Linked DNA regions of Homo sapiens: region 1 is linked to region 2. The links come from fine-mapping of genetic effects on gene expression. A gene starts in region 2. The other region holds a variant in brackets. All regions are shown on one strand. Distances are between the middles of the regions.

What was found. PIP is the estimated chance that this variant, and not a neighbour inherited with it, causes the effect.
Region 1: its variant is fine-mapped to the expression of AP3B1 in whole blood (TOPMed, PIP 0.96). The same link has a PIP of 0.9 or more in lung.

What each region holds. Positions count from the first base shown.
Region 1 is chr5:78,126,819-78,131,222 of GRCh38, forward strand. It overlaps AP3B1 (adaptor related protein complex 3 subunit beta 1), which reads right to left. Exons shown (of 27, transcript NM_003664.5): 16 at 2,303-2,489; 17 at 1,212-1,342. Among named protein-coding and RNA genes, the nearest start is that of AP3B1, 170 kb to the right of the region's middle. The variant A/T (reference allele first, on the strand shown) is at 2,386.
Region 2 is chr5:78,292,438-78,296,841 of GRCh38, forward strand. AP3B1 (adaptor related protein complex 3 subunit beta 1) reads right to left here and starts at 2,261. Exons shown (of 27, transcript NM_003664.5): 1 at 2,015-2,261. The coding sequence starts at 2,142. RefSeq lists enhancers at 2,524-3,097, 3,472-3,521.

The DNA.
Region 1 (4,404 bases), 170 kb before region 2:
GACCTGGGTTGGAATATGGTTCTATCACTTACTTGCCATGTGAACTTAGGCGATTTACTTTAAGTTATCTAAGACTTGGCTTCCTCATCTGCAATGTGGGAATAACAATAACCATCCCTTACAATCATTATTAGGTTTAAACAAGATAGTTTTTATAAAACATTATCATCGTACACTGTCAGGGGTTCCTAAATAGTGCTATTATTAATTCCGGCCATGCTTCAAAGCCAGGATAAGTTGGAGTGGTTAAGAGAAACATTTAATAATTTCTCAGAGGAATCAAATTACATGGCCATGATCATTATAGAAATTCTATTTATTAAAGTAATAAAGGTTTTCTTCCACTGTATACAGAAAAATTGAGAGCAAGGAGGTTAACTCACTTTCCCACAGGAATTAGTAAAGAACCCCAGTTATCTGAATCCTAATTCAATGTATCTTTTCCACCAGAAAAGTATCCAGAATACAATTCTTAACTGCTTTTTTTGTTAACTCCACATTTTAAAGTATTAAATATATTTTGCATAATTGCTAAATACAATTAGAAGGCCTCTCTCACTTTTTCTTGTATATATGAGAAAGAAACAGATAATATTAGAAAAGAATGTTAATTCTTTTATCTCAATGGCCAGCATTTTTTTTAAAGATTGAGAAAAAGAGTATTTATATAGCAAATTTGTTTTTGATGAGAAAGCACCATATTATTCACTTTGTGACCTTGTCAAAGGACATTTTTGGTACACAATGCTCCCTATTTATGTTCAGGCTTCACTTAAAAATGGTTCATCAAAAAATCTAGAACACTTTGTGTGGTTTTTCTGAAAGAGAACAGCAGAAATTATTCAGAAGGATATTGTCAGGAAGCTTACAAATCTCTAAACAAAGTAGAAAAAACTTCATCCAATGAAACTAAATACCTTAGAAATTGAATCTACGCGGCTACAAATGCAATAGCACAAATGTGGGTGGCACTGATGCAGAGAATTCAGTTCTCTATTTCCTTGAAGAAAAGGAACAGTACATGTACAATGGCATAGGAATACTATAATATTTAGTTGCTATAAAGGCAAGGTATATCTAACACATTACATTTAGAAATACTAGAACAATTTTCAATTTTCAACTCTCCAAAAAAGCTTTTATATAAAACAATAGCTATCCTAGAGTCTTCCACTGCTTTGGCAAAATTAATTTCAGAAAGGTCAACTTACCAACTCTATTACTTCTACATTTCGAACTGATGGGTCGGGCGCCACCTCTGGCCAATTAGATAATTCCAGGTACCCAGTAGCTTTAATGTTGAGAGTATGAGATAAGGTGCCAAGCTGGAAATGATCTCTATCTATTAAAAATAGGGAAAAATATAAAATAAACAATATGAGCTGTATATAACAGAGAACAATCATAATCAGAGCTCAAGGTAATTGGCATATTACCTCAAATGTCAAGGAATAAATATAGACTAGGAAGCTCTTCATAGGTCAAAAAACTGATTTCAGTCCATAGATTACAATAATCTCCCCCATAATGGTCAATAAAAAAGCTAATCAGTCAGTGTGTTTAGAGGTGTTGCTCTGAAATGTAGCTTCTCTAAAAATTACTTTACTGTGAATATTAAGAATGACAGCACAGTTAAACAATCCATATACATGTCTTGGCACAAACACATCCAGAATTTTAATAGTTTTTCTACAAAACTGAATTGCTTTTTATCGCTTTAAAATAAGAACATTAAATAAGAAACAATATGAAAACCAAGGTATGTAACTATTTGATTCCAACTGGAATGGCTACTTGTAAGGTGGTAAAATACTTAATTACTCCTTTTAAAAAGCTGGGACACGTAAGTCAACTTCCCTCTTTGAAAAACCAGTTTAAATATAGAGGGATACTTTTTATAAAATAATTCCTCCTAGAAAAACTGATATTAGTGTACACAGAATATTTACTTAATAACTCACTATTAAAAGGAATTATATTTCTTATAAAACTATTTAAAAGAGAAATGAAGTCATTATTTATAAGAATAAGACAGTTTTCATCTATTGCCCAGTTTAAATGTTAGAATAAAGTCAGAACGCTTAAAATTATTTAGTAAATAAGGTCTACAAAAATATAAACTTTAATATAAAACTTGCTTTTGAGAGCAGATGAATGAGTAGAAAGCATGCTGTTCTTATATATTTATATATGCGAATCATTTATATTTCCTAAGAGATAAATTTTAAGCACATTAGAAATGGCAACATCTTGTCATAATTTTTTAGATAACATATATTTTGGAGTTATATTCTGATAATACCTTTAAAAGGAGACTCAAGCAGTGGTGCAGGCTTTTGTGCTAGGAATATTTTTTTGGCATATTTACTTAAAGCTCCACTCTTT[A/T]CATTCGGAACAATAAGCTGCCTAATAAATCTTGTACGGTCTCTGATGTCGTAGTTTTGATCATACTTGCCGAGATTTAATATGTACTGGGTAAGCAATTTTGTCTGTTGGAAAAAAACAGATCAAGATGAGAATACAGTTATTTATGATTATCGATAACTCTGGATAAACATATTTAAAGAGGTAATAAAAATGAATGGTTATGTCAAACAAATGTTGTTCCATAGGGAATACACATTTCTAATGCTGCAAATGGAATTTTGAAGCCAAAGCACATGTCCTCTTCTGTACTGGGTAGGTGAATGCTGAGTATTGAGAAGCAGCCATGTGCTAGATTATTAAACTGCTGAAGTGGAAAGAAAGGCATCATTAAAAAAATAATCATATATGGCAAACCCGCTGAAGGGGTCTACGTGAGAATAATGAATGTGGAAATACAACTAAAAACATGGCACTCAAAACTTAATCGGAAAAATATGCAGGACATCAAAACATCAGAAAGTATTAGGGGGCTGGCAAACTGCTTCTCCTGAGGTGTGTTTTATGAAGAGATACTGTCCCTGGCATAAGCAGTGTCTGCACTCTGACTGCACTCAGTTACTTTACCCTGAATTATGACCCATTAAAGCAGACACATGAATCACTGAACTGGATTACTGCAAATTATTTGCAGTGCATTTAGCTGTTACTTTTTCATAAAAGCAAGCTGCTGATGCCCTCTGAAAACTAGGATAAAAGACTTCTTCCATTTTTCCCCCAAGCTGCTTATAGCCTCTAGTAATATTGGTCATTTATTTATTTATGTAAGGGAACAACTTATTATAGTAGCTTTTACACCATAATAAGACTTCCTAAGTCAATTTTTGAATGTACTACATTAACATATATTGAAATAATTTTAATAATTAAACCAAAATTGAAATGTTAACAAAACAGGTTTGTATTTTAAACTACAGTTATTTTATTGAAAAAGCATAGTTTTAACAAGAAGGCTACATGTGTACAATTTTAACTATAAGCCAAATAGAATTCATAATATATGGGAAAAATAAACCGAGAAACACTAAATCATTTACTTTAGATTAGAAGATTTTATGCACATTAGAAGCAGATAAAAAATAAAATCAATCAAGTTAGGCAGAGCTAAAGACAATTCTAGAACAATAAGTCAAAGTACAGAAATGGTGTGGTAAACTCTTTTACAATAATTGCTTAAGATAATTGATTTGATAGAAAGCAACCTTATTTCAGTAGCAGAGTAGTTAAAAAGGATTAACCCAGTTTTATTAAAGTAGAATTATAAAAAATACAAGTGAAAATGTTAATAGAGCTATTCTGAATTTGGTTACCAACAATTGCTATTCACTAATTGCTAGACCATGCTGGTTCAAGTACAGGTAAGAAAATTTCTATGATTCATTTTTTAAGACAATTTGCAAAGTATTCACCAAATGAGGAATACAATTCAAAACCAACTTAAAAGAAAATGTGGTACACTAAACCATGTAATTAATTTGCTGGAAAAACCTGGGAAATCCACTTAATCATTAGTTTTCTCAAATGTGGAGTTAGAATTTACAACTTGGTTAACTCTAAAGTCCATTTGAGTGCTGAGATTTTAAATCTGCAACTAAAATAAAGAAAGAGTCTCTTAATTGCAATGATTTTTTTGAGCTAGCAGAATGATACATTTGGCTTATATTTCTTAGCCCAAAATTAATTTTTAGGAAATTAAACATTTTCAATATGTTAACAATTTTGAAAGTTAGGTAGGGCATTTAAAGTAATTAAAATTATATAATTTAAAAATTTTTATTGACTGTAAAATGTATTATATTATAAGCTTATAAATAAGTTTTATTAAAATGTATTTTCAAAAATAACATTCTTTCTAAAAGATAAAAACAAATTTGTGTACAATGATGCACTAAAACCATAAGCAGAATAGTTATTCACCACACATTTACATACATTAATCAGTTTCTTCAGTGTATGTATCTAGTAACAAGGCATTAGTAT
Region 2 (4,404 bases):
ATACATTTCATCAAGTAGTAAGTAGCACATCTAAACTTTTGAGAGAATGGGCTCTAATATTAGAGCCCCTGAGTTCAAATTCAGGCAGTGCAATGTTCTACCTTTGTGGCCTTTTCCAAGTTAACAACCTTGCTCCAATTTCCTCACGTGTAAAGTGGGAGCAGAGAAGTACCTGGTAATAACCTGCAGGGTTGTTTAGGAAAACTGAATGAGATAATAAATGTAAAGTGGTGTGCACAAATACTCAATAAATATCTTTCGGGGAACACAATTCAACCATGGTTATTTGCATATATTACATATCACCTCTAATCAATTAGCTACTTTTATTTTAAATCCAACCTGTTAGGTCACCTCAAGAGCACTGGTCACAGAGTCAAAGCCGTAAGTTTTTTTTGTTTTTTTTTTCCAAATCAGGTCCAAATTTGACAAAAATCTTTTTCTTTTTTTTCTTTTTTTGAGACGGAGTCTCACTCTGTCGCCCACGTTTGAGTGCTGTGGCGCGATCTCGGCTCACTGCAGCTTCCGCCTCCCGGGTTCAAGCGATTCTCCTGCCTCAGCCTCCCGAGTAGCTGGGATTACAGGCACGAGCCACCACGCCCGGCTAATTTTTGTATTTTTAGTAGAGACGGGGTTTCACCATGTTGGCCAGGCTGGTCTCGAACTCCTGGCCTCAAGCGATCCGCCCACCTCACCCTCCCAAAGTGCTGGGATTACAGGCGTGAGCCGCAGTGCCTGGCCCCAAATCTGACAAAAATCTAAGAGAAAACATCGTAGATGTTCACAAACCATAAAAGTAAATTAATTTGCGAAACAGATTGATGCCGATATACAGGTTAATTCAGTCTAAACATTTTGCTAATAGTAGAGGCAACAAGCTCCGTACTTGTTCTAGAACAATGGATCATCAAATGCATATAATGAAAAATGAAATCAGTTACCTTACTTTTAAACTTTTCTAACCTTGGGAAAAAGGAAAAGATTGTATCTTACATGCTATATATATGATTTTGATCCTCAATACAGCCAAAATGTAATCCCAATTTGAAGTAGTAGCACTTTCTAGACTACCCAATATTGTTAGTAACGTTTAATTTAAATTTTAATTATACCCTCTAACAGATCTGCAAAGCTACTAGCACAGCTATTCTACCTTAATTTAGCATGAATTTAGTGACAGACTATTATGTGACCCTATTGCTTAGTAATGAAAGATTTAAAATAAGAGAAATGTAAAAATGATAATTCTGGTAAATGTAACCACTACCACCAACCCACCCCCCAAAACAAACAACTTGGGATTTCTTTCCATTTCTCGGTGATACTTTTTACAAAACTAAGTGTACCTTGTTTAACATTCGTTTTTAAAATTCACATTATTAATCTGTAAAAGTTTTGGATTTGTTCACAGTAACACTCTTTTAAAATATTTTCTATTCATATGCTTATTTTGGATTGGTGTTTTTGTCTGTAGTGCAAAGGACATAATCCAAGAACATTAATACTGGTGTAAACCAGTTTGTCCATTCAAACAGCCTAAATCCACCTCTCTGCTCCTACACTCCGGGGTCACAAAATAACTTCCCACAAGCAACACTCGCACTCTCACCTTCACCAAAACACTCCTTTCACCCTAATCAGGGAATGTATTAAAGTCTGATCCGGCGAACGGTAAATAAACTAGAAGACGATGCTCAAAATTCAGACTCCTGAGCCCAGCCCAAGTCCAATTCAATCAGTGTCTTCAGGGGTGGGATCTAAGCTCACCAAGTGGTTTCCTTTTCACTAAAGTTTGAAAACTACTAGAGACCCCTACACACATTCGCCCCAAACTCCCACAACTCCCACCACCGCCAACCAACCCCACCTACCCACCCGCGGGACACGTTACCGCCCTGCCCTGCTCAGACCTCAGGGCGACCCCGCTCCTCTCCAGGAAGCCCACCCTGGCGCCCACTCCTCCGAGTCCGCAGCTCCTCCCTCCCATCCCCGCAACCCAAACCTTTCTCCTCACTTCTTCAAATCGCTGCTAAAGAGGCCGAAGGCCCCCGAGGGGGAAATGGTTGAGGTCGCCTCCTGACCCAGCTCCGTCGCCTCCCCTCCTCCGGACTGCTCATTGTAAGGAAAACTATTGCTGGACATTGCCGCGGTGCTGGCGGGTGCGGGGTTGGTCCTGCCGGGGGTTCTCTCCAAAAGGTTCCAGTCCAGAGGGCACGGAACAAAACTAGTTCTCGTACGGAGGAGCGCGCGCAGGCGCTTCCGGACTCGTCACGGCTCCCTGAGCCGACCTGGCAGTCCACCCCCTGCGCATGCGCAGTGTGCAGGCCTGCTAGATTACCACCCGGGCCATCCAGGCCTGCGCGGACTTTCCTGCTCCGGGCTTTAGAGGTAGCTGAGCGGCTGCGAGCCGGACTGCGGAAGGGGAGGCAGCGGGTGGCTAACTGCCCGGCTCCCGGCCCGTTTGAGGTGTGTCTTTGGAGAAGGATACCCATTGCATCCGTTTTGATCCGTTAAGGAGTTTCCAGAGCCCGGACAGCTCTTTGCTATACTTCAGTAAAGCAATAGTTTTCAGATTTCTCCGGAAATGCCATTTAGCACGCCAGATCACCTTTCCTAAACCCATCACGATCGCTTTTCCTTTTCTTGCTTGTTTCGGCTACTCTCTTCCATCCGGCTTTGCCTTACTTTCATATCGGTCCCAAACAACTTTTCTCCTAGACTTTAAGGAGGCCTCTCCCAACGATGGTTTGGAGGATCCGCACAGAAGCGACCATTCCATCTTTTCAATGAAAGTCTTGGGGGCAGACCGGGCGCGGTGGCTCACGCCAGTAATTCCAGCACTTTGGGAGGCCGAGGCGGGTGGATCACTTGAGGCCAGGAGTTCGAGACCAGCCTAGGCAACATAGCGAGACCCTTTCTCTGCAAAAAATATAAAAATTAGCCGGCGTGGTGGCGCGTGTCTGTGGTCCCAGCTACTGAGGCTGAGGTGGGAGGATCACTCGAACCCAGAAGGAGGGGGTAGCGATGAGTTGAGATCTCTCCACTGCATTCCAGCCTGGGCGACAGAGCGAGACCCTGTCTCAAAAAAATGAAAAAGAAAAGAAAACATCTTGGGGCCACCAGTTCCCGTTTGGAGCTGAAGTGGTGCGTCCTATTGGCGTCTAGCTACCAAAAATAAAATGGACCACCTCGCGCGCCAGTCGTGTTACTCACTAATATGCACTAGGGAGCCTAGGCGGGATGCTTGCCTGGCCCCAGAGTAGCTCTCTCCGGGTGCTGGCACCCGAGAAAACCTCTTTCCCGGGGTGCCTTCCCCCAGCCCGCCTTCTCAGGTGGGTTTCAGCGCCTTCCCTCTCTTCTCCCCAGTGCCTCCCGTCCAAGGAAGGCATTAACACCCAAAGCCCTGGCGGCCAGGTACTGAAACTGTCAAGGGATTCTACCAGGTAGAACGCGAACCTGGAGGCCGGCCGCCCCAGGGAAGGCGGTGGGGCGTTTTCAAGGATGAGAGTATGATCTCCAAATTTCAAAAGGTCACACTGTCACTGTGGAAGCACGCAAGAGCGTGGCTCTGGGTGGGAGAGGAAGGGACGTCCTCCAAACTTGATCGTCTGGTCAAATATTGGCAGGTTTTTAATTCAGCTGTTAGAATACTCCTCCGGAGAGCCAATGATGAGCACCTAAAATGTGTTATTTGTCAGTATTAATTAATAGAATTTCACCTACAACTGACTATTGATGATGAGGATGAGGATGATCATAGATAACTATATATTATTATATAATCCTTAATATATACCAGGATATAAGTAGTTTTATATATATTAAAACTTCTAAGTAGTTTTATATATATAAATAGTTAAAGTAGTTAACTTTTAATATAAAAAAATTTATTTTAAGTTAAAATAAATACTTTTAAGTTAAAATAGTTAACTTTTAATATATATTAAAAGTTCTAAGTAGTTTTATATATATTAATAGTAAAAAGAGCTAGGCTTTGATTACTTTATTTGTAAAATGAGAACATTGATATACACATAGCCTGGAAAATCTCGGACACATACCTGATTACAGAATTTCTTGGTTTTAGAGCATGTACACTTTTACCAGATATCCTAAATTTTTTTCCAGCATACTTTTAGCAGTGGATAATCTTCTTTCTTCACATTCTCACAAACGTTTAGCTTTCTAAAAATGTTTAATTGTCATCAATATGATACAAATGAATATTATTTGTATTGTAATTAATTTTCATTCTCATGGCCATAATGAACTTGAGAATATTTTATGTGATTGTTACTCCATTTGCATTTTATTTCCTGGGAATTGCACATGAACCTATTTATCCACTTTTACACTGAGTAGTTTTTCTGATGGACTTGAAGAGTTCTTTATCATTGAGTCTGT